Linked DNA regions of Homo sapiens. The protein of the gene in region 4 interacts with the protein of the main gene of each other region in a biochemical or structural test. Each region holds a gene or a part of one and is shown on either strand. Other genes may lie near its edges. The genes, in order: GOPC, FRMPD3, PALS2, KCNV1, ARHGEF11, FRMPD4 and GRID2IP.

What was found.
Region 1: the proteins of KCNV1 (region 4) and GOPC interact in a test that uses a peptide from one of them, tested with the Homo sapiens proteins (one large-scale study listed by IntAct).
Region 2: the proteins of KCNV1 (region 4) and FRMPD3 interact in a test that uses a peptide from one of them, tested with the Homo sapiens proteins (one large-scale study listed by IntAct).
Region 3: the proteins of KCNV1 (region 4) and PALS2 interact in a test that uses a peptide from one of them, tested with the Homo sapiens proteins (one large-scale study listed by IntAct).
Region 5: the proteins of KCNV1 (region 4) and ARHGEF11 interact in a test that uses a peptide from one of them, tested with the Homo sapiens proteins (one large-scale study listed by IntAct).
Region 6: the proteins of KCNV1 (region 4) and FRMPD4 interact in a test that uses a peptide from one of them, tested with the Homo sapiens proteins (one large-scale study listed by IntAct).
Region 7: the proteins of KCNV1 (region 4) and GRID2IP interact in a test that uses a peptide from one of them, tested with the Homo sapiens proteins (one large-scale study listed by IntAct).

Annotation. Positions count from the first base shown.
Region 1 is NC_000006.12:117,568,012-117,571,511, reverse strand, and holds part of GOPC (Golgi-associated PDZ and coiled-coil motif-containing protein), read left to right. Parts: intron 1-556; coding exon 557-652; intron 653-1,653; exon of another isoform or gene 1,654-1,775; coding exon 1,776-1,940; intron 1,941-3,500.
Region 2 is NC_000023.11:107,596,152-107,599,651, forward strand, and holds part of FRMPD3 (FERM and PDZ domain-containing protein 3), read left to right. Parts: intron 1-1,169; coding exon 1,170-1,991; intron 1,992-3,500.
Region 3 is NC_000007.14:24,674,452-24,677,951, forward strand, and holds part of PALS2 (protein PALS2), read left to right. Parts: intron 1-3,500.
Region 4 is NC_000008.11:109,965,772-109,969,271, forward strand, and holds part of KCNV1 (potassium voltage-gated channel subfamily V member 1), read right to left. Parts: intron 2,829-3,500; coding exon 2,317-2,828; 3' UTR 1-2,316. UniProt on the Homo sapiens protein: Potassium channel subunit that does not form functional channels by itself. Modulates KCNB1 and KCNB2 channel activity by shifting the threshold for inactivation to more negative values and by slowing the rate of inactivation.
Region 5 is NC_000001.11:156,948,243-156,951,742, forward strand, and holds part of ARHGEF11 (rho guanine nucleotide exchange factor 11), read right to left. Parts: intron 3,458-3,500; coding exon 3,331-3,457; intron 1,776-3,330; exon of another isoform or gene 384-1,775; coding exon of another isoform or gene 331-383; intron 278-330; coding exon of another isoform or gene 257-277; coding exon 77-256; intron 1-76. UniProt on the Homo sapiens protein: May play a role in the regulation of RhoA GTPase by guanine nucleotide-binding alpha-12 (GNA12) and alpha-13 (GNA13). Acts as guanine nucleotide exchange factor (GEF) for RhoA GTPase and may act as GTPase-activating protein (GAP) for GNA12 and GNA13.
Region 6 is NC_000023.11:12,715,473-12,718,972, reverse strand, and holds part of FRMPD4 (FERM and PDZ domain-containing protein 4), read right to left. Parts: intron 2,905-3,500; coding exon 1,840-2,904; intron 1,473-1,839; coding exon 183-1,472; intron 1-182. UniProt on the Homo sapiens protein: Positive regulator of dendritic spine morphogenesis and density. Required for the maintenance of excitatory synaptic transmission. Binds phosphatidylinositol 4,5-bisphosphate.
Region 7 is NC_000007.14:6,496,278-6,499,461, forward strand, and holds the end of GRID2IP (delphilin), read right to left. Parts: intron 1,952-3,184; coding exon 1,787-1,951; intron 1,569-1,786; coding exon 1,497-1,568; 3' UTR 501-1,496; downstream 1-500.

The DNA.
Region 1 (3,500 bases), on a different chromosome or scaffold from region 4:
AAGAGGCTTGTGATTCATTTATCTGCTGAGTAGGAAAACAGCTTAGTAGAGACAGAAAGAGTAAGGGTACCAGAGAAAAGATTATTAGTGGATCAAGGCCCTTTATTTAAGAGGTAGACTCCAGAGCACCAAGGAATGTATAAGTAATTAATGGTCCAATTGGAAATTTGTTTTTCAACTCTACAACTCAGCTAAAATGAATGTATATCTTAAAGATATCCAGTGAAGATAGACACTTTTATTTTTTGAGGATATTTGTTCCTCAATTAATTCCTGGAAATCATTTCTTTTATAATGCCCTACAATTTAAAAAGAGATGTATCAATATTTTAAACATTATTGGCAAAAGGGTGAGAATATCATCTATAAATTTTGCATCAACAGAATAGCTATTTTCATTTTTCCATTTTATCTGTTACTTTCTTAACCCTATACTGTTTATCCATTCCAGGAAGTTAATACAGATTTCTAAAAGCAAGTTATATAGTATGAGTTTACTCTATTTGGTATGCTATTTAAATGATACTACTTTTTCTTCTTTTTTCCTCCCAATAAGGATCAAGATTCCCTAAAGAAAAGCCAAGGTGTTGGTCCAATTAGAAAAGTTCTCCTCCTTAAGGAAGATCATGAAGGCCTTGGCATTTCAATTACAGTAAGAAGTAGTACTTCCAGTATCATTTTCTACAGTTATCTAGTATAATCATGCTCCTTTGTTGGACATCACTGGGGAACAGAATATTCTGGATATATTTTTTAAATAACTAAAATTTATCCCCATGGGGATAAATGTTTGCTTTTGTGTAAATATTTTTTTAAGAAATAAATATTCCTAGCAACTATTAAGTGTACCTTTAGTAAGCATAGTTTAACATTTTTATTATGATTCACTTAATAGTTCTGTGCCATATACTGTGATGCCTCTAGGAGCCCTTGGGAATAGACGTGGCTGTTTTCTTCTATGTTAAATGGCTTCAGATTGTATTGTTCTCTCTCGGAGTACGTGTATCTTTCTCTTGCCTCATTTATTAGCTGTCAGATTTCACTGGCTCTTGGGTCCAAATGTTATATATTCTTTTTTTTAAATTCGATGCCTTTAGGAGTCATTTTGTTGTCATCTCAGTGCTTTAATGAATAAGGTGGCTTTAATTTTCATTTGGTAATACTTAGGCACTGAGCAAGATCATTTGTTTTTTTAGTATTGCTTAATGTAGAAATGTTTCTTATAATAAAAAGCTCATCTAATCTATATTTCTTGAATACTTACCTTTTTTTTTTTTATGTGCTGCCTTCAAAGAGCATACATTTTAGCAGGACAAATAAGACACACACACACACCCCTACACACACGCAACAATGATATAAGCTAGAGAGTGATAGGTACCAAATACTGCATTTTTTCAATTCTACATTGCATATATTTTCATATTTTAACTTCTCTGAAATTGAAATTTATCTTATAATCTTAAAATTATTTTTGTGGCACCTAAAATAATTGGTCTTGTCATTCGTAGTGATTTAGACTTGATAAAATGTAATGGTGCTATGGAGTACTAACACATAAGTTTTTTTTAATTTAAGAATTTAGCCAATTTCTGTTCAATACTCTGATAATTTTTACCATTACTTAAGTAGCAAATAAAATTTTACCCAGCATTTATAGAGACAGCATAGGTGTTTAATGAAATATATTTTTAAGAAAATATTTTATCTCTAGATTAATCGGTAACTGTACCTTACAAAGAGTACTTTAATTTACTGCCCTTTGTTGTTGTTAGGGTGGGAAAGAACATGGTGTTCCAATCCTCATCTCTGAGATCCATCCGGGGCAACCTGCTGATAGATGCGGAGGGCTGCACGTTGGGGATGCTATTTTGGCAGTCAACGGAGTTAACCTAAGGGACACAAAGCATAAAGAAGCTGTAACTATTCTTTCTCAGCAGGTAAATTCCCTTCATGTAATTAGAACTGGATCTATCAATTGGTTATGAATCTATTGAACACTGTATACTTCCCTACGAAGTTTCTAAAGTAGTAAAGTGTTTACACATAGTTCTTGTTTCCTTTGATTTAATGCTTTTATAGCTGACATTCAGTCAGATTTACTGAAAATGGACCATTCCATTTTGTTTACTTCATAACTTTGAGCAAGTTACTTAAGTCCTCTGTCCCTCAGTGTCCTCACCTGTGTGGGAGGGATTGAAAGAAAGCTGTGAGGATTAAGTATGTTAATACATATAAAGTACTCAGAACAGGACCTGAGACTGAAAAAACAACATCCTTAATGCCTAGAACACTATATATAAGGTATTACAGAAAAGACAGTGCTAGAAGTAGATTGATTTTAGTCATGGAATATTAAAATTGAAATCACACATAGAAACTATCTAGCCCAACTCTCTTAAAATGAGTAAACTAAAGTTCTTAGCGATGAAAGGATTTACTCAAAGTTGCCAAGCAAATAAATTATAGAATTGAGATTCATACTCAGGAGTCATATTTGTCATACAGTTGTACTTAAAATGTTGTTTTATTTTATTTCTTTCAAGAATAGAGTTGAGGGAATTAGAGGCATTGGTAGTACATTGAGATGTTTCTTGGATTATCAGTGTGGTATGCCTCTGTAGAATTGCATCTCAGAGTTGAAAGTGAATATTGTTCATTGGTTCAATTCTATATGATGCATAAATCTTTGCAACATCACTACTTCAATAATTACATTACAGGGAAGACTTGCTGATATCAACCAGTCCATTCCATTGTAATACAGTACTGATTTTTAGAAAGCTTTTTCTCATATTAAGCCTGAAATCTGTGTCTCCATGACAGCTACTCACAGATCTAATTCTGTCATCTAAAACTTTGCTGAAGACCACTGCATCATCTGTCTCTTTCTGCAAAATGGTATTTTTAAAGCATTAGCTGACAAGAGAGATCTAAGAATGCTACGCTATTCTCTTAAGTTAGTGTTTTATCAATCCATCTTGACTGTCATCCAGTAGCAAAAGAGTGGGATAACTGGTGAAGGAGCTATCAATGGGCAGCCATAAGTTTTAAGGAAATGCTAACTAAGCACATATTAAAATTCTGAGGTATAACCTTAAACTGCTGGGAAAGAAGAGCACCAAAGAGACTAACTTAGTGAGTAGCAGTCAAAAATGCCGTGTTTTCTTTTGAGCAAAGGCAAGCCATAGTTTTCAGAATTGCCAACACCACACTTATATGTAGTGGTTGGAGTCTCTTATTAAATGACAATTATAGCTTGGAAATTTTTCTTTTAACATAAAACGATCTGTAACATTTTTTTCTTTTTTGGAGCCAGGATCTCACTTTGTCACCCAGGCTGGAGTGCAGTGGCACAATTACGGACCACTGCAGCCTCAACCTCCCAGGCTCAAACAGATCCTCCGACCTCAGCCCCCTGAGTAGCTAAGACTACAGATGCCTGCCACCATGGCCAGCTAATTTTTTTTTTTTTTTTTTTTTTTGTAGAGATGGGTTTT
Region 2 (3,500 bases), on a different chromosome or scaffold from region 4:
AGTTTGAGTGGCATTTTGAAGGCTTGTTTTCCAGCATCTTGACCACCATGATGAGTTATAAGGGTAATGGCTAAAAACATGGGTTTTGAAGTCTTTCAGACCTAGGCGGAAATCCAGTCTACCACTTGGTCTATGTAACCTTAGGTGAGTCAGTTTCTTTATCCTTAAAATGTGAATAATGATAATAACTACCTCATTGGGTTGTTATGAAGAATAAGTAGGATCATGTATATTAGGACCTTAGCCTAAGTTAGTGCTTGTTTGTTATCTGTCTGTCTGCTGTCCGAGTATATTCTCACAGATAAAATGGGGAAGAGCTCCAAAAACAGTGAGAGAAGGTATTCACAGATAAAGCATTTGCTATAGATAATTCTCAGATGCACACACCTACCATCATTAAGAGCGGTTGACGAGAGCATTTGCCATATGTATGTGTAGCAGGTAGGGCTGGCCCTGCATGAATGCAGAAAAGAATAAAATTTGAAGAATTATAAGAATGCTTCCCCTGCCCTCCTCCCACATATGCACATCCCAGCATATCTCCCATATACTTTACACATTCAGACCCCGGAATTCTAATATAGAGCCTTATTCTTTTAGGATCCCTCCATCAACAGGCCTCTTTGAAATGCAAACTCTTCGGCATTATATGTAGCCTGTTTAACAGGTTCTGACTAAAGCATTAGTAACTTGTCAGATTTATTTCCTTCTGCTAGAAGAGATTCAAGATAACAAGAACAACAGAGCACTGGTGGAAAAGCTCTGAAAAGGGGTGGGGACAGGGGTAGGAACAGTTCCAAGTGGGACATACGTTTACAGCTGACTTTCAGATAGAGGGTATCCATGTAAGAGTCCAGCTGTGCCCAGATACCAGGCCCTAAACCAGGGTGTTCACCCCGACCCCTACCATACCCCATGCCTTTTCCCATTTCAGAGGTGATGGGGCTATTAGCAGCTCAGGTTATTAGACTCTATTCACTCTACTTTCAGGGTCAGCAGTAACATAGCTCATCAACTTCCCTACCTCTAATCTTTGGCAGCCAGGTAATGCTTTGTCTTGGGACCTGCCACTTGATTGTGCTACAGAGACATGGGCCAGAGACAACAAGGGAGCTCATTCACAATCCTTGGCACCAGGGCTCATCTGTTGATTCTCTTTCTGGGTTTAGATTACATGCACAGCGCCCACCGCCCTGTCACTGGGGGCCACCTGGGGAAAAAGGAGAGTAGTTATGTGGGCAGCGTGGGCACCAGCCCCAGGAAATCGAGCCGCTGCACGCCCCCACCTGCCGACTCTGAGCTTGTCAGCTTCTGCTACCTCCATATGCGGGAACAAAGGAAGGAGCAGGAAAGCCGGACAGATGTCAACGAGAACCTAATCTTCTTTGAGGAGACCAGGCCCCGAACCAAGTCTGACCCCACATCCAAAAGCTCTGGCCAAGGTTATGAGGTAGTCCCTGATGACTTTGATGCAGCTAGCCTAGACCACGAGCCTTGTGCCAGCAGGGCCCGGTCCTACACCTTGGACAATTCCCTTGGGGCTGAAGCCCTGAATTTCTACTGTGACTCTTGCAAAGCCAAACTTCAGGAGCAGCTGGGCCCTCGCAAAGGTGGGAAGCCTGGCTCCTCTCGTGACAATATAGTAGATTTGATGTCCCTCCCACCACCTGGGAGTGAGGAGGAGGAGGAGGAGGAAGATGAGACAACTTCTCTGTTGCCAGCCATTGCTGCCCCACCCCCTGGTTTCCGAGACAACAGCTCTGATGAGGATGACCCCAAGCGCCGGGCTGTCCAGAGCCAGGAACAAGGACGCCACCTGCGTGGGCTTCTGTACGATGAGATTCCAGTGACATTGATTGACAGTGTGCAGACCCGGACAGTTCGAGATCATGCCCAGGAGCTAGATGATGCCCTGGTGTCCACTCTGCAGGCTCTAGAAGCCCTGGCTGCATCCGAGGATGGACCACACCCACCACCCCCACAGACTGCAGGTAATGACCGATTCCTTCTCCCTCTTTCCACCCCCTTCTCTTGTCCAACAAGGGCCAGTAGGTAACATTGTGTCTTCCCAAATAGGTGTCAGAGTCACTGAGGTATGTCAGGGCAGTGGATGTACCAAAGGTTCTTTAGATAGGGTCAGAGGAGCAATGATGTTACAGCAGGGAGCAGCTGCTCAGCTCTAGCTAGAGTTCTGGCTCTCGTCATTGCATCTCTTTGGAAATGCCTTACAGATAGATCCCAGGGATTGGGGTCATGACAGCTATGGATGCAGGCCAGGATAGAGGATCAGAGAAAAACTGTGAGAGATGTAGAAGACAGGTGAAGAACAGAACATCCAGCATGCACATGATTGAAAGAAAAGGAAAACGACCAACTCACTACCTAGTGACCTGGGACCAGGGGAGCCAAGGGCCATCACTGCTCATGGCTGAGGTCTTTATCCTGCCTAAGAACATGGGCTCTGAATCAGATGCACCGAAGTCCTGGTTTCTTCAATCATTGTCAGTGTAACCTTTGGCAAGGCACTTACTCTCTCTGAACCTCATTCCATCATCTTAAATGGGTTTTATAAAAGTAGTTCTATCACATGGGGTTGTCACAAGGATTGAATGAGATCATTCATGCAAAGCATGTAAGCACTGCCTAGCACACAGTAAGGCCTCAGTAAGTGGTAGCTATTGTAACTAAGTATTAGTTCACAGGAAAACCGTACAACATGCATGCTGTTCCCTGTTATAAACACATGTATGTCCATCTTGTAGACAAACACATGTCAGACACATACCCATAGTCACACATATGTCCCTCCATATACATACACCTTAAAAAAAGAGAAGAGAGCTGGGCGTGGTGGCTCACACCTGTAATCCCAGCACTTTTGGAGGCCGAGGTGGGCAGATTACTTGAGGTCAGGAGTTCGAGATCAGCCTGGCCAACATGGTGAAAACCTGTCTCTACTAAAAATACAAAAATTAACTGGGTGGGCTGGTGCACACCTGTAGTCTCAGCTACTCAGGAGGCTGAGGCAGGAGAATCGCTTGAACCTGAGAGGCAGAGGTCGCAGTGAGCCGATACTGCACCACTGCACTCCAGCCTGGGTGACAGAGTGAGACTCTAAAAAAAAAAAAGAAGAAAAAAGAAAGAGAAGAGGTAAATGACACAGCAACAGAAAAGGAATAGGGAGGAATAGGGACCACGAGGGATTGGGGTCAGAGAGAGCCTGCCTTTTCCATGTGTGAGGACACCCTTGACATTGGACAACCCCCATGTATTTGGCCCCCAGGGCTGGCATTTCTCTTTGCTTAGAGTCTGGAGAGAGTGCTAGTTGCTCCCAGGCTTGAGTCCCACGTGGCTGCTGGAGAGAGGACAAGCTCAGCTAAATGGCCTCAGCTGCAATGACTGTAGGCGGGCCTGGCCAGATGAGGAGGGATAGAGAGAGACCTCTCTTTGCCAGCCCCTCTTTAGGACAATTAACAAAAATTTCCTAGCTGTTGAATCTA
Region 3 (3,500 bases), on a different chromosome or scaffold from region 4:
AATTATCAAGGGCTTAAAGCCCTCCACAGAACCTTTTCTTAGAATGAATGGGTTTAGTTCAACCATCATACATCTTCAGGGTAATGAACATGCTGCTGGACAACTGGCACTCTGGAAGAGCCTGGTCAGCTCTGTCTGTAACTGTGCTCTTCAACAGCACCATCTCCTCTCAAAGTATTTTCTTTCACTTGTGATTGCTTGTTTGATCCATTGGTTATTTGGGAGTATATTGCTTATTTTCCATATATTTTTGAATTTCTAAAATTTTCTGTTATAAAATTAAGGTGATTTAACTTTCTTTATATATTACAAAATGATCCTAAGATAAAATAGAAAAACATTGTTATTTTAGGGAGATGGGCTATGTTATGCATCCTGTTTTCAATTTAACATTGACATCTTGACATCTTGAGCTTAGTTAACAAATGAAGTATTACTTTGTTGATTGTGTCTTCATTATTTGAAGAGCAGCTAAAATTGAGAATTTTGCCTATCATAAAAAATTACTTCTAAAAAATCACATTATGTAGTTGCGCAGTATAGAAGTCTAAGGAATCAGTTGTAGTCAAACCTTCATGTTCTAATTTCTCTGTTCTAGAAATGGAAAGCAGTTTAAATATGTGGCAACGTAGATTGTTTTTTGAAGTGTTAGTAGAGAATAGGATTGTAGTTAAAATTCACTTGTAAACTAAAGAACATTTCTCTAAGAATTAAGATTCCCTCAGCATGGAGGTAGAGGTAATACATGTGCATATACATATTTATTTCAAGCAGCGCATTCCCCTATATGGTTTCACTGTAGGACTTCACCGAAAAAACATTAATTTTTAAAATTAATGTTCACAATGTTGAACCAAGTCCTATTATGCATTTATTTGGGGAGTTACAAGTTGCCTTAGAAGTTTTTTTATTTTTTTATTTTTTTAAGGTTTTTTTTTTTCCCCTCTTATTATTATACTTTTAAGTTTTAGGGTACATGTGCACAATGTGCAGGTTAGTTACATATGTATACATGTGCCATGGTGGTGTGCTGCACCCATTAACTCGTCATCTAGCATTAGGTATATCTCCCAGTGCTATCCCTCCCCCCTCCCCCCACCCCACAACAGTCCCCAGAGTGTGATGTTCCCCTTCCTGTGTCCATGTGTTCTCATTGTTCAGTTCCCACCTATGAGTGAGAATATGCGGTGTTTGGTTTTTTGTTCTTGCGATAGTTTACTGAGAATGATGATTTCCAATTTCATCCATGTCCCTACAAAGGACATGAACTCATCATTTTTTATGGCTGCATAGTATTCCATGGTGTATATGTGCCACATTTTCTTAATCCAGTCTATCATTGTTGGACATTTGGATTGGTTCCAAGTCTTTGCTATTATGAATAATGCCGCAATAAACATACGTGTGCATGTGTCTTTATAGTAGCATGATTTATAGTCCTTTGGGTATATACCCAGTAATGGGATGGCTGGGTCAAATGGTATTTCTAGTTCTAGATCCTTGAGGAATCGCCACACTGACTTCCAGAATGGTTGAACTAGTTTACAGTCCCACCAACAGTGTAAAAGTGTTCCTATTTCTCCACATCCTCTCCAGCACCTGTTGTTTCCTGACTTTTTAATGATTGCCATTCTAACTGGTGTGAGATGGTATCTCATTGTGGTTTTGATTTGCATTTCTCTGATGGCCAGTGATGGTGAGCATTTTTTCATGTGTTTTTTGGCTGCATAAGTGTCTGTCCATGTCCTTCGCCCACTTTTTGATGGGGTTGTTTGTTTTTTTCTTGTAAATTTGTTTGAGTTCATTGTAGATTCTGGATATTAGCCCTTTGTCAGATGAGTAGGTTGGGAAAATTTTCTCCCATTTTGTAGGTTGCCTGTTCACTCTGATGGTAGTTTCTTTTCCTGTGCAGAAGCTCTTTAGTTTAATTAGATCCCATTTGTCAATTTTGTCTTTTGTTGCCATTGCTTTTGGTGTTTTAGACATGAAGTGCTTGCCCATGCCTGTGTCCTGAATGGTAACGCCTAGGTTTTCTTCTAGGGTTTTTATGGTTTTAGGTCTAACGTTTAAGTCTTTAATCCATCTTGAATTGATTTTTGTATAAGGTGTAAGGAAGGGATCCAGTTTCAGCTTTCTATGTATGGCTAGCCAGTGGTCCCAGCACCATTTATTAAATAGGGAATCCTTTCCCCATTGCTTGTTTTTCTCAGGTTTGTCAAAGATCAGATAGTTGTAGATACGCGGCGTTATTTCTGAGGGCTCTGTTCTGTTCCATTGATCTGTATCTCTGTTTTGGTACCAGTCCCATGCTGTTTTGGTTACTGTAGCCTTGTAGTATAGTTTGAAGTCAGGTAGTGTGATGCCTCCAGCTTTGTTCTTTTGGCTTAGGATTGACTTGGTGATGCAGGCTCTCTTTTGGTTCCATATGAACTTTAAAGTAGTTTTTTCGAATTCTGTGAAGAAAGGCATTGGTAGCTTGATGGGGATGGCATTGAGTCTGTAAATTACCTTGGGCAGTATGGCCATTTTCACGATATTGATTCTTCCTACCCATGAGCATGGAATGTTCTTGCATTTGTTTGTATCCTCTTTTATTTCGTTGAGCAGTGGTTTGTAGTTCTCCTTGAAGAGGTCCTTCACATCCCTTGTAAGTTGGATTCCTAGGTATTTTATTCCTTTGAAGCAATTGTGAATGGGAGTTCACTCATGATTTGGCTCTCTGTCTGTTGTTGGTGTATAAGAATGCTTGTGATTTTTATGCATTGATTTTGTATCCTGAGACTTTGCTGAAGTTGCTTATCAGCTTAAGGAGATTTTGGGCTGAGACAATGGGGTTTTCTAGATATACAATCACGTCATCTGCAAACAGGGACAATTTGACTTCCTCTTTTCCTAATTGAATACCCTTTATTTCCTTCTCTTGCCTAATTGCCCTGGCCAGAACTTCCAACACTATGTTGAATAGGAGTGGTGAGAGAGGGCATCCCTGTCTTGTGCCAGTTTTCAAAGGGAATGCTTCCAGTTTTTGCCCATTCAGTATGATATTGGCTGTGGGTTTGTCATAGATAGCTCTTATTATTTTGAGATACGTCCCATCAATACCTAATTTATTGAGAGTTTTTAGCATGAAGGGCTGTTGAATTTTGTCAAAGGCCTTTTCTGCATCTATTGAGATAATCATGTGGTTTTTGTCTTTGGTTCTGTTTATATGCTGGATTACATTTATTGAGAAGTTTTATTATACACACCTTTGGTGACTAATTCCAGAAACCTTAAAGATCACACAGTTTTAAATATGAAAAGCCATCATAGCATCTTGAAGATTCTCAAAGATACTTTATAAATACTCTTCACAGTAGTCTAAGACGACCACTCTCAAGGTTGAGCCAGAAAACAAGGGGAAAACAGGAGTCCTATTATACATAATGATCTCATTTGACCCTTATTTTTGAGCATGAGTTTGAAGTTCATTTTGTTCTTATAAAAGTTTTCTATGTCTT
Region 4 (3,500 bases):
CCATGCACAAGAAGTTGGCTTGCCTGCCTAAAAAATAAATTTCTATGCAGAGCTTGTGTAGGAAGAATGAAATCTGCAATTTGACTTTTAGGAGTGTCGTTTTCCGGGTCAGGCAGATTGGTATTCAGCGCTGGCTCTGCCATCTATAGCCTGTGTGAATTTAGGCAAGTTTATACCTTTTAATGTTTCAGTTTCGCTGTCTTTTCCTCACACACCTTTGAACAGAATATTAACTACAAGAAAACAGGACCTAGTCTTGTTTAAGAAAGACTCCCTAGTCCCCAGAACACCAAAGATCCTTAATAAATATTTGTTGAGTTAATAAATATATAAAATATGTATTTTGAAGAGTATAAGAATAGTAATTATATAATAGGGATATTTTGAGGATAAAATGGCATAATACATGATGAATACAGAGCATAGTCCTGGATCAGAGTAACTATTCTTATTAGGGAAAGTTCTAGAAAAGCTGGAGTAAGTTTACCTTCTGTGTCTAACTTCTACTTTCCCTTCAGATTGTGGAAGGGATTTATACTATGACTAGTGGCCCTGTGCCACAATCTAGCACCCATGTATGTGTGTAAGAAGTAAAATATTTATCTTACTAATATTCATATCTCCTGAACCTTTTATAATATTTAGGAGAAGTGGAAACAAGTTAAATGAATTAAAGTACTTTAGCACACAATCTAAAACTCATGCCATCAGTGAAAATGTTTTCAGAGCTTAACCATGCATACCAGAAAACAGGAGGTAGTACATGCGATATTTCATTGATTTTAAGGTGCTTATTTTAAATTTTTACATATCTGAAATCCGGATGCATTTTACAGTTAATGGCATCTTACAATTGACTGGCATCTTTCTTTCTTGGTAGTGCATAGCATAATATGATGTCTTAAATAGAGTTTATGAAATACCTTATAGCTATATATTAAAGCAGTCCTCAATGTTTATTTCTTATCACCATTCACCCCTGGCAAAGAGCCTTCTAGGCTTTTTTCCCTAACATCTCACCCCCATGAAATGTTAATACCACAGATATACTCAATATGCTTATCTGTGTTTTGTAAATGAAGTGATAAGATTTTTTTTTCCTCAAGAACCAATTTTCTTCCCCTTGGGGGCTCTATTATATTGGAAATGTAGGTATTAAAGTGATGCATTCCTTGTTATTCTTAGGTTGTAGAATCTCATTTACTAAAATAATGGGAATCATGAGCTAGTTCTTAGCTTTAGAGGTTTTGGCTTTAATTATATAATACAATGTCTAGGAATTGTGTTGTTATGATGAATGTCAAAATGCCTGCAAAGTTTGAACATTTGCTATTTACCCCAACAATCAGAAAGCTGTCCATAGTATTTTTTTGTTAACAAGTAAAAGATCTTCAAGTTCATCCAGTGATGTCATTTAACATATATTTCCCATTTTATGAAATAAGATTATTTAGTAATTCCAGTGTAGAAATTTAGGATGTTCACTACCTCACTTTTACATATTCATTATTTTAAAGCCATAATGTGAACAATACATCCATAAAGAGACATTTAAAGACCATCTGATATTCATGAAATACTAAGAAATATGCTGTTTTATGCTCCACATACTACACTCAGTTGGGAGAATGAAGATGTGCAATTGTTGAAGTCTTTGTGTAGACTCATGTACTGCAATCTAAGCAGTTTTGGGATTCCCACCTCTTATAGTAATAATGGGATACAGAGATCAGTTCATTTGTGACCAGTGGTTTACATGAAAAAGAAGATAGGGATATAATCTCTGCCCATCAAATATGGGTTTTCTCTTGTAAAGCTAAGTATTATATTCAATAGCTTTAACTGATAGAGAACGGAGTAATTTATGTACTTGGATAATATCTTTAAATAGCAAAGTTGTTCAATATGTTCTTAAATATTTACTTATCTTTCTCTGGGCTATGCAGTTTACCTTCCATTTTTAAAAAATTAGTGGTGCAAAAAACTTCTAATGTTAGTGATACATAAAATCTTTAACTTTTTTGTATGTATTGCAATAACATTATTTTATATTTGACAATTCAAACATGTTTATATTGGCCCAGTTGTATTTGGTTGTGTTAATTGGCTATTTTGGACACTCAAATGTGTCAGAACACTGTGCAGTTGTTATAGGTGATGTGAAATATTCTAGTAGATGAAGCAATATATCAGCAAAAATTAATTAAGATGAGCAGTACTCTGAAGAGACTCATCATCAGAATACAGAAATCCACATCACTGCTTTATCATTTTAGTTAATTGTACATAGCTTTTGTAAATAAATTGAAAATTAATTCAAAACCAGAAATCATCTCCCCCGCTGCTCCTAGTACTTGCTCTTTCTCTGCCTTTCAGTCGCAGCATCTCCATGATACTCCGGGCATAGACATCTCTCAAGTTAACACTGATATATGAGTCAGTGGCTATATTCTTGGTAAGCTTCTTTAGGGCTTCACGCTGTCTAACAGCTGCTTCCTTGAGTTTCAAGGTGAAGTAGCAAGCAGAGAAGCGATCGTTAATAATAGCAATAGGCAAGGCCAAGACAAGAATTCCCGATAATATACACATGAAGGCCACGATTTTGCCTGTGGTGGTGTCTGGTCTAATGTCCCCATATCCCACAGTAGTCATAGAGGTGGTGGCCCACCACCATGCACAAGGGACACTTGTGAAGGTTGTGTCAGGAATGCTTTGCTCAGCAAAGTATTCTACAGTTGAAAATATAGAGATTCCCACGGATAGAAATAGGAGCAGTAGGCCGACTTCTTCGTAACACTGGGTGATTGTCATCCCAAGGGAGCGTAATCCTGCAACAGAACAAATGCTGTCAGTCATTGGCATCCCTCTTCTCTCTCTTCCTTCCCTCCCCTCCCCTCTCCCTCCTTGCTCTGCCACCCACAAACTGCACTGCACACTTAAATGTCCCCAGCACTGGGCAATGTTCTGGGGATACAAAGTTGATTAAATCATAATCCTTGTGCCAGGAAGTTCACAGTCTAGTTGATGGGGCCAGGTTGAGAAGGCTAGAGAGAAATATAATTAGATTCATTAATTCACCTATAGAATTATTGAACTTCTACTATTAAAAAGAAGGCGAGAGGTAAGACTGAAGGCAGGCAGGGGTGGTATGATAGGAGTTTTGTACTTTAGTCTGTACAATAAGAGGCCTTTGCGGTGTTGCATGTGGAGGGCATATTTGGTCACACCTGCATTTCAATGCATCATTTTAGCACTTGTTTCAAATGCCAGTTTTATGTTGTCTTGTATTTTATGTGTCTGTTTTTCTCACCTTCCTTGTAAAGTTTAAGACAATCAGGAACCTGATTACAGGAAAGCCAGAAAAAGTAAACAATGGGCACCATAGCAACAAAGTGAAGCAGCAGAAGCAAGTTAGGCATTGGTGATAAAATTGACATGAGAACATCACATGTATATTCAGGGGACATTCTCAGCAGTATGTCAGGAGGAGGTCTGAACTC
Region 5 (3,500 bases), on a different chromosome or scaffold from region 4:
TCAACTCTCAGCAACCCTCTATCCTTGCCGCCACCCCTGAGATGTCCATGGGTGCAGCCGTTGTAGCCCTGCCCACCTGGTGGAGAGGCTGGAGGTAGAGGACGAGGCTGACTGGTGCAGGCGAGTAGCCTCCGCAGCAGCATCCATGTCAACATCACTGCGAGAGCGGGGCACGTTCTCTGCCTTTCGAGACCGTTTCATCTCTTCCCGGCCCTTGAGGCTTTCAGAGCGGCCCAGGCGAATCTCTGAGCGTGAACTGGGGGGAAGGGACAAAAGACTTTGGGACTTGGGAAGTCAGTGGGCCATGCTTACATCCTGGCTAACTCTTACCTGTGGCTCCATCTCAAAGATGCCTCCGTGCCACAGGTTCTCCTCCTGAACATGGCCAAAGCAGCTGGATGGCAGTGGAAGCTTCTCAATGACAGACTATTTTTGCTGCTCTACAAACTCCTCCTCTCTCCCCAGCCTAGCCTGATGGATGGACAGTCATCTTCCTCTGGAGCTATTAGGAAGGGATCCTAACAGGAAGATGAAATCTGGGGCTAACAGACTCTGAGTTGTAGTGTGTCCAGAGGCCTGAGACACCATGCTTCTGTCAAGAAGGTGGTAGACATCATCGTCCCTCAACAGGGAACACAAGGTCCCAGCTCCCTGCCCCTAGTGGCCAGTTCACGTTGCCTCTGCTTTGGAACGGGTCAGCTCCCACCTTTAACTCTGCCTGAGGCGAACCTCTTTTAAGAGGTCTTAAGAGGAAAGTGGAGTCACTATATTCACAGCTCATTTTAGGATTTTCCACACTGCCTGTCAGAAAGTTCTATCTGCTGCTGGATTCTTAGCCTTCCAGTTGTGATGTGGATGAGTTCCATTCTTATCTTAACAATACTGTTCCTAAGATTCCATTTCCTCTCAAGAGCAGACAGGCTTGTGCTTAAAGGGGCCTTTTTACTGATAGGCAGGACCCGCTCCTTGGCCTGCCGTGCTTGGCTACTGAGTGTCTCTGGGGTTTGATGAGATGCTGATGACTGGGTGTTGCGGTGTCGAGTCCTGCAGTGCATCAGCCCAAGACAGCTGGCACCTCTGACCCCTAGCTGCCCCAGGATGGTCACCCCACCTCCATGCTGTGGCCCTGTTGGGCTGGTTTTCTGATATTATTAGTAATCTACATCCTGCTCTGCTTCTAGGACCACAGGAGGCCTGGAAATGTCTGCAGAGCTCTTAATAGCACAGCAGGTTGCTGCAATGAGGAGCTAAATGTCTCGGTCTCCATTCATTGTGCCCAAACTGCCAGATGATCCAAAATGGAGCTCATCTCCTAGGGTCCTGAGGGTTTTGTCTGCAGGGTTAGAAAACATACTGCCCACTGATCCCTTATTGAATTCACCCTCCAGAATTGTGTTAGAACAATCCCAACCCAGACTAACTCGGAACACTTTTCAGTGTCCTAATGGGTCACTGTACCACCACAACAAACACCCAGTGGAGTTACTGGGGCTGCAGAGCTAAGCACCTTCCTTCAAGCACCCAGAAGTAAGTAATGCTCCTCACCAAGAAGTGAGGCATATCATCTGTCTTTGCCCCCAAATTCCTAGGGTATTGCCTTCTAGAACTGGGGCATCTTATACCTGTTGAGTATCTACAACAATCTCTGACCCACCATATTGCTAATACTATTTCTTCTGAGATTGCCAATGAGTTGATAATCATCAAACCCAAAGGCTTCTGCTTAGAGTAGCTTTAGGATCCTAGCAAGTGTCTTAGGGCAAATTTACCTAGCAATGCCAAGAATGCAACTTTGTAAATGGTCTCAAATATTTTCTCAAAATGTTGATGTCTTATAATCTTAAAATATTTGATATATCTACGACATCATGTGCTTCCACAGGAATCACATAATTTGCGTATTTAACTTACCCATTAATGTTAGAACTCAACCTTCCCCCAGTACAAATCTAACCTTTGTCTCCTGTAAATCTGTCAATTCTCATGGCAGCAAAATCTTTTAACACGTGTTAAGCTGAAAAAAGGCTTCATATAAACAGAAAGGAGTAACCTGCATTCAAGCAGGAAAGGTTGGCTTATGGTTTGATAATTAGTTATTTCAAAGGCAAAATAGGCCAGGTGCAGTGGCTCATGCCTATAATCCTAGCACTTTGGGAGGCTGAGGCAGGAAGATTGCTGTGGTTGGGAGTTCGAGACCAAGCTGGGCAACATAGTGAGACTGTCTCAAAAAAATAAAAATAAAAATCAATTAGCCAGGTGCAGTGGTGCATGCCTGTATCCCTAGTTACTCAGGAGGCTGAGGTGGGAGGATCCCTTGAACCCAGGAGTTTGAGGCTGCAGTGAGCTATGATTGCACCACTGCAATCCAGCCTGGGTGACAGAGAAAGATCCTGTCTCTTTAAAAAAGAAAAAAAAATCCCCAAAACAAACAAACAAACAAACGAAGGCAAAATGGCTTGAATATCCACGCTGCTGCATACTGACTTGCTTTCATGCCTGCCTATACTCCAGCTCAGTGGCTCTGAGGCTTGACTGTACACAAGCATTATTTCCCCCCACACAAGACCATATTACTCTACCTGTTTAAGTCACCTTTAAGGGTGGTGTTGGTTTTTAAGTGTTGGCTATAGAATTTTAGACATGACTTGACTGCTGTCATGCCACAATCAAGAGCAAGTAAGTCCAAGAACAAGTTTTCATACCAGATGGGGACTCTAGTTAGAACCTGACCAAAGAAGAATATGAGAGATGCCAGTCTCAATTCCCCTTTTTCTTCTTGAAAAGGGAAAAACAGTCCATTTGTAATCAATCCACTTTGCCTCTCTTTGCTGAGGTGGACATCTGATGCCTATAGTTACATCATTTGTCTTTAAAGTACCCAGCAGAACCTCATCTCTGGCTCTCTTCTTCACATACAGACAGGAAACCACTTTCTTTTGCCTGCCTGGGTCTTTTTTCCCCAGGACTCCCTCTTGCCCCCACTATAGTCTTCCTTATCCTTGTCACTTAGGGTTTCCTGATTAGCTGCTTTTTATCACCTAGCTCGATCTTGGATGAAGGCTACTGAGTAGTCAGGTGATAAATCCAAAGGGAATTTGAAAAGTGTGTAGTTCTTGGGCTGGAAGTCGGGGATCTGCTTGCTCTTCCACTGGCCTGTTCACTGGCACACAATGTGTCTCCTGAAGATACTGGGGGTGGGGAGGAAGTTCTGTAAAGGGAGCCTTAGAAGCTAGTGGAGAGGGGTCAAGTAGCTGGAATTAAACCCTAGCATCAGCCCTGCCCATGACCCACTCTTCGAGCAGCTGGCGAGTCCCATCCAGCCAGTGCTACCTGTCACTCTCCAGCAGGTCCTCAGGAAAGCTTCCGGTCGAGAGTCGTTGTGTCCCAGGTTCTGGGGCATCATACTGCTGGTTGTTCTCAAAGTGCTGAATGATGTTCCTCACATTGCCTGGTTTGACTAGAAGCAAAAAGAAAATGAAGGACACTAGGCTTGCTGTTCA
Region 6 (3,500 bases), on a different chromosome or scaffold from region 4:
TTTATAATCTTTAGTATTTATTAAATACCAGGGGATCAATGATTGGTACTTTACAGTTCTGTGGCCTTTTAAAATTCTACCTTTTACTTTTCTTCCAGACATTACGTTTTTAAGTTTGTTGTAAATATGGTTTACATGCTCTTGGCATGTCATACAAAGTGCTAAATCCATCATTGCTGTACCTGTGGTTTCCTTAATCTTGGGGAGCCGATGGCATCCATCTCTCAATGTGCCAAACAGGGGTTCGGTGTTAATGGCTGTGTGCAGAGCAGGCACTGTCATCCGTGGACACATCCCTTCTGTCTGTGGGTGCAGTTCCTTAAAGGTGGCTCCGTGGTTGGGAAGCCCAGGGGCTCTCTCCTCTGAAGGAATGTAATTCACGCCTTTCCCAGAAGCGTCAGGAATCAAGTGCTTCCCCAGGGAGGGGCAGAGCGGCGACTCCACGGGTGTGGCACAGGCACTGCCACTGCTGCCTGTGCCACAGCCTGCATCCACTGAAGAGCCTTGGGAGCTCTGCAGAGAAAAATGGCCCTCGCTTTGCAGTGATGACATCCGCTTGGCCAAGTGGTAGTCACAAAGGCGGGCCACACTCTCATCAGCCTCAGGAAGCTTGGAAGGATGGTCGCAGGTGGACGAGTCAGCGTCCTCTGGGTTATCTAAGTCTTTGGCTGAAGATGCACAGGTCACGTCAGTTAAGAAGCGGTCCCCTTGACCAAGTCCTGAGCCATCACTGGTTTCTCCATCAGGAGCTCCTTCTTCCTTCCCTTCGGCCTCCCTTGCCCCAAGACCAGAAGCTCTTGGAAAGGTTTTCCCTGTTGCTGCTTCTAATCCACTTTTTTCAGCCATCCCACCTTCAGTGGCCACATACCATCTTTGACTGTCCTTGCGAAAGGCAGTTCTCTCCAGATTAAAAGTGCTCAGGTGTTGACTGTCTCGTGAAGACACAGTACCAAATTTACCACTGGCCTCCTCCTCCATCTCTGCCGTTTTGGTCCCCTGCTGTTTTTTTCCTGTTGTGTTCCCATTAGGGGGTGCCTTCCCCTCACCATCGGCCAGCTTGCTTTTCCTTTTGCTAGTGCAGGAGTATGCCACCGACCCCATGTGCAGTTTGCTAAAATAGTCAGTGACCGACTTAGTCTCCATAGTTTCAGGCTCCATCTCCATGTGGTCTGAGTGAAGTAACTGCTTGGAAGGCACAACTTTGGGCGGGAGGTCGGTTGCTGGCCTAGCAGCCAGGGCGTGCGAGGACTTTGGAGGCAAGCCCCCAGCGGGGGTCTTGGAGGCCGGGAACTCGGTCTGCTCTTCTGCAAGGGGGTGGTAGCCTTCGTGAGTGGCCAAGAACATGCGGGAGAGGTTTTCTGACTGTTTTTGTGCTGTGGCCAGTTCAGAACTCTCAGTCATTTCAGAAGAGTTAGTTTCATTGCCCGAGTCTGACGAAGACTCAGGACTATAAGCCCGCAAGATGGCTACACCTGCATGCCGTAAAAAACAAGAACTGATTAATGGATGCATCAGAGGCACTTGGAGACATGTAAGAAAATGGGACTCGTTATTACTAAAACAAAATACCAAGTTTTTCCCTTTTCAGTAAGGACTCTGAGTTTATTGCAGTTTTTCCAGAAATGGGGGTGGGGGGAGATGTGCCTTATGTTTTTAAAAAAAAATAACAAAGGAAATCACATACACACAAAAAAACCCATGATGGCAGTTTCAGCACATTTATGAAATGGGACATGTGTGAAATGGAGAACACCACGTAACAGGACTCCAGGGGCAAATGGCTTGGAAGGATGGAATGATATGGTTATCAGTGAATGAATGTAACAATTGTGAAAGAACCTGAATTGTCACTGGTCTGCTGTTCTTCTGACACGGATAGAGCCTCTAGAGCTCCCAGCGTGGAGACGACGGCATTATCCAGTCCCTTCTCACACTTGCCTTCGGCGCTGGTGGGCACAGCGTCAATGAGGGACACGGGGATCTCATCATTTTGCAGGCTGCTGCCTTTCTCCTTGTCCTCGGGGAAGGAAGCTGCCTGGCTCTGAGAGTCCTCTTCATCTGAACTGTCTCTAAAGCCAGGTGGGGGTGCGGCAATGGCCATGTTCAAGGAACGCAACAGGAAGTCATCCTCATTGTCATCACCTTCTGGAGGGGGCAGGGATGTGAGGTCAATGATGTCATCGCTTGACCCAGACAGGTTGAGGATGGCCGGCTGGTTCATCTCCCCCACCACGAGGTCCTCCTCGCAGCTCACCTCGTCCTCGTCCTCCGCGTCATCAGTGTTTTCTGCATAACAGATGTCATGCAAGAGGGGTTCCTCGATCCCCTCCGCGGCCTGGAAGCTCTTCACATCGCCTATGTTTGCATAAACAGAATTTTCCACAAACTGGATGCCCTCTGCCTCTGGAGTGAGATCCAGGCCCTTCATGTCATTGGCACTGCCAATGTAGAGATTTCTCTGCTTCTCCAGCATTTCAGGACCCTCATCTAGTAGCGTTTCATAGCCAAGGGTTGGGGGACTAATACCATCATCCAAGGCGAAGTCTCCAAAAATAAAGGACACTTTAGCTCCTCTCGGAGATTCCTGTGCTTTCTTCAGAGTTTCTGGTCCTGAGAGGGTCAATAGGGACCGCTGAGCTAGACTTCTGTAGTCTGCCTCACAGGGGGCCTCCCCGGGCTGGCTCAGCTGCTGGTTAAGTCCATCTGAACTATAGGCATTGTCTATGTACAAGTGCCGGTGCTCTTTTGGACACATGGTGCTGTCTGTGATCTCCACCGTCTTCTGCTTTGAATCTATGTATGTTATCTGGGCTTCTTGTTCCCCTTCGCCAATAAAGGTGGTCATTTGGGGTATACAGTTCCAATCTGGGCCAAGGAGGTTATGCTTCCCCTTGTTTTCAGGTCCTAAAGAGAAAGAATCACGCAAAGACACATTACTGTACTGTCTGGTTTTGGGTGGGGCGGGGGTGGGAGGCTCGTCTCTGTTTTTTAACTTAATGGCTTGTAGCATCACTTATGTAAATACAGTTTTTCAACTACCCAAATATAGTACTTATTGATTTAGGCTTCAGGTGTAAGAATTCCTTGGGTTAGGAGAACCGACCTTAACAAAATTGATACTGCATAAACTGTAATTGCTATTTGATAAAATGTAATACCATCTGGGGGTAGGGAAGTATAGCTTAATTCCATCTGACCCTTGGTTCTATTATTAAAAGGCTTCATTCATATCTACAAATGTAAATATACAACATGTCTTTTACCCTTAAAGGTGAGATTTCAATAGGCCGTTATTCCAGAACATTAATTGTTCTTTTCCTTGTAAGGTGAGATTTAATATTCCCTACTTCATGGAGGAAGATATTGAGTGTTTTCCTCATTGAATTCAGAGACGGTCAAGGATCGTCAGAGTTTTACCATAGTTTTTAGGAAATTAAGATAAATGTTGTAATGATAGTACAAAACTTCTATCTTCAGTCTTTTGATATCCTAGTGGATGT
Region 7 (3,184 bases), on a different chromosome or scaffold from region 4:
TAATTTTGTGTATTTTTAGTAGAGATATGGCTTCACTATGTTGGCCAGGCTGGTCTTGAACTTCTGGCCTCAGGTGATCCACCTGCCTCAGCCTCCCGAAGTGTTGGAATTACAGGCGTGAGCCCCCACGCCCTGCCTGCAGAGGTTTTAACTGACCTCCTGACATGTTTCCCAGAGACACAGGCACTGGGAACTTTTGGAAACAATTCTGCTTGAGCTGCTAGGGTGAAATGTACCCCACTAGCCACATCCCCCTTGCAGTATATATTTTGGTTTTGATGTTTTTGTATGGTGCTTGTGTGCAAGGAACAAAAAAACAAAGGTGGCTTCCAAGAGGGGCCTAGGGGAGACTGGGAAGAACTGAACAGGTTCCCAGTACTGCCCAGGTGCAATGTAAGCCATTTGATTGCAGTGGGAGAAAAAGAATCCATGAGACAGGATTAAAGCCCATTTCAGACTTTTCCAAAAAAAAAAAAAAAAAAAAGTGCAACGAGGGAAGCTGTCTGATCCAAGGATCTGTCAATCAGAGAATTTTAAAAAAGGTGAAACAGTTCACACACCCTCCCTCCCTGCCCACCACGCCACCTGCTCCTGCTCCTGGTATCCAGGTAACTCCTGCTATATGCCTAGGCACATGTAAAATGACCATTTGGGTCCCAAACACATCCCAGATTGTGTCATCTGCCCCCACACCTGCCCCGGTCTCATGACTTGCTCCAGGGAACATCACCATCCGTCCAGGTGAGAAGTCTGGCAGTTGGCCACCAGATCCTGCTCACCTCCTGCCTCAACACCTCCCCATTCTGTCTGCTCTACCTTGACCACACCTATTCCACTCCCAGGCTCCCCACTTCCAATTGGGCCACCTCTACACAGGTTTGGGTTTGTCCACTGCATGAAACCTCAATTCCGCAGTCTGACATAGGGGGTCTTCCTTCTCCAGTCCTTCCTTCCCTGCGTCTCTCCCAGGCTTCTCTCTTCCTGTGTCCCTGAAGCCAGCTTCCAAGGCCCAGGCTGGGCGTGCACATCCCCAGGGCCCCTCTACATCCGGCTTTCTGCCCTCTCGCGTCTCGCGCCTGCCTGCAGGGTCGTGCTCAAGGGTGTCGGCCCCCTCACAGGGACCCACTAGGAGCAGGATCAGAAAAAAGGTCCACATGTCCCAGGAATGTGGCCACTTTGTAATCCACCCTCCAGGCCCCCCTGACAGCCTGGGAGCGAAGTGGGAAGTGGGCCCAAGAAGCCGACAGAGCACGGTCCTCCATGTGCAGGCACACTCAGCACCTGCTCCTACAGCATCTGGCTCTGGGCCTGGGGGTAGGAACAAGGGCTGGCAGAGGAGGGCCCGACCACAGCTCGGCGGCTGAGGTAGCTGCAGGAGAGGCTGGCGGTGTGCTCAGAGCCCGGGGCACAGTGGCCCCGGACCTCGGCAGTGTCTGGGCTGCCCTCTCGGCCTCCATCTCCCTGCTCAGGCCGCAGAGGACGCGGTGTGGCCACTGTCACCAGGCCAGGGGTGAAACCATCCCGGAGCTGCGCAGGCCCTCCCCGGCCTGCAGGTCACTCAGCGCTCGCTGGGGAGGGGGAACACAGAGGTAGGGTGGTCAGTGGTCCCAGGAACCTGTGACGCCTTCCCTGTCTCTTCCCACACTAGACAGCCCATCAGGGGGTTAGGGGGACATGTCGCTCACTGGAGCCCCTTTCCCAGCCCTGGCTTCATGGAGGATCCCTTCATTTGGCCTCTGGCCCCCACCTCTCCAAAAGGGCCCCTCAGGGCTCCAGCGAGGCTCACCTCGAATTTGCTCATGAACTCTGCAAAGATGCCGAAGAAAGCCTCAGAGGTGGTGGCCTTGGAATCCTCCCCAAAGAAGGCCAGCGCCTTGCCCAGCTCCTCCATGGCCTCGCGCTGCAGCCCGTCGAGCGCCCGAAGTGCTGGCTGGGCCGTCTCCAGGAAGGACTGACAGGCCTCAGTTAAGGAAACAGCCAGCCCGCTTGTGCCCCCAGGGTCTCAGGTGGTGGCCCGACAGACAGGTCCCTAGCAGCCCTATTCCCGGTTGGCCTGAGTCCTTCCAAGGGCCAGGCCCTGTGTCCAACAGGGAACCAGGCCCTGTTCAGGGACTCTAGTCCCACTGGCCACTGAACTCATCCTGGAACTGGCCACAGCCAGTGCAGCCTCAGGCCATTCACCCCTGTTCTCTCTGCAGGGCCAGGCCCTGGGTCTCTGATCAGAGGCTTCCACTGCCACCTTCTTCCCCAACCACTCATTTACAGTAGGCCCCTCTGTCACTCTCTAGGCCTTACTTTTTTTTTTTTTTTTTTTTTTTTTGAGACAGGGTCTTATTCTGTCGCTCAGCCTGGAGTGCAGTGGTGTGATCACAGCTCACAGATCATTCCAGCCTCTACCTCCCAGGCTCAAGTGATCCTCCCACCTCAGCCTCCCGAGCAGCTGGGACCAGAGGTTTACACCACCATACCCAGCTAATTTTTTGATTTTTAAAATAGAGATGGGGTGTATGTTGCCTAGGGTGGTCTCAAACTCCTGGGCTCAAGTGATCCTCCCACTTTGGCCTCCCAAAGTGCTGGGATTACAGGTGTGAGCCACTGCACCTGGCCTTAGGCCTTACTCTGTTTTCTAGAGCATTTGTCATGATCTGAAATTGTTCATAAGTTCATTTCCTACTGCCTAAGTGAAAGCTCGCTCCCTCCTTGCACCTCCAGGGCTTAGAATAGCATCTGATACATGGTCAGTCTTGCAAAAAGATTCAGTGGCTGAATCGCTATCATTTTTTCAGCACTTAAAATGGTGCCGAGCTTTGTTCCAAGCTTGTTGAATCATCGTTTAACACCTCTATGAGGTAGATTATCTCTATTTTACATGTGAACAAATTAAAGCACACAGGACTTTAGCAACTAGCCCAAGATCACACAGCAAGCACTGTGGTGCCTGAGCCACGGTTGAACCCACCAGGGTCACATCAATTAATGACCACTGTGGTAGAGGTTCTCATGACCCCTCTTTTTCCTGATGAGAAAACTGGGCTCACAGAGGGTAACTGACTTGCCCATAGTCCCACAGCAGGTAAGGAAATGAGCCAGGATTTGGGCCTATGCCTGTCTGATGTGCCAGGTCAATTTCCTTTGCAGAGGCTGCCTTTAATTAATTAATTAATTAATTTTGAGACAGAGTCTC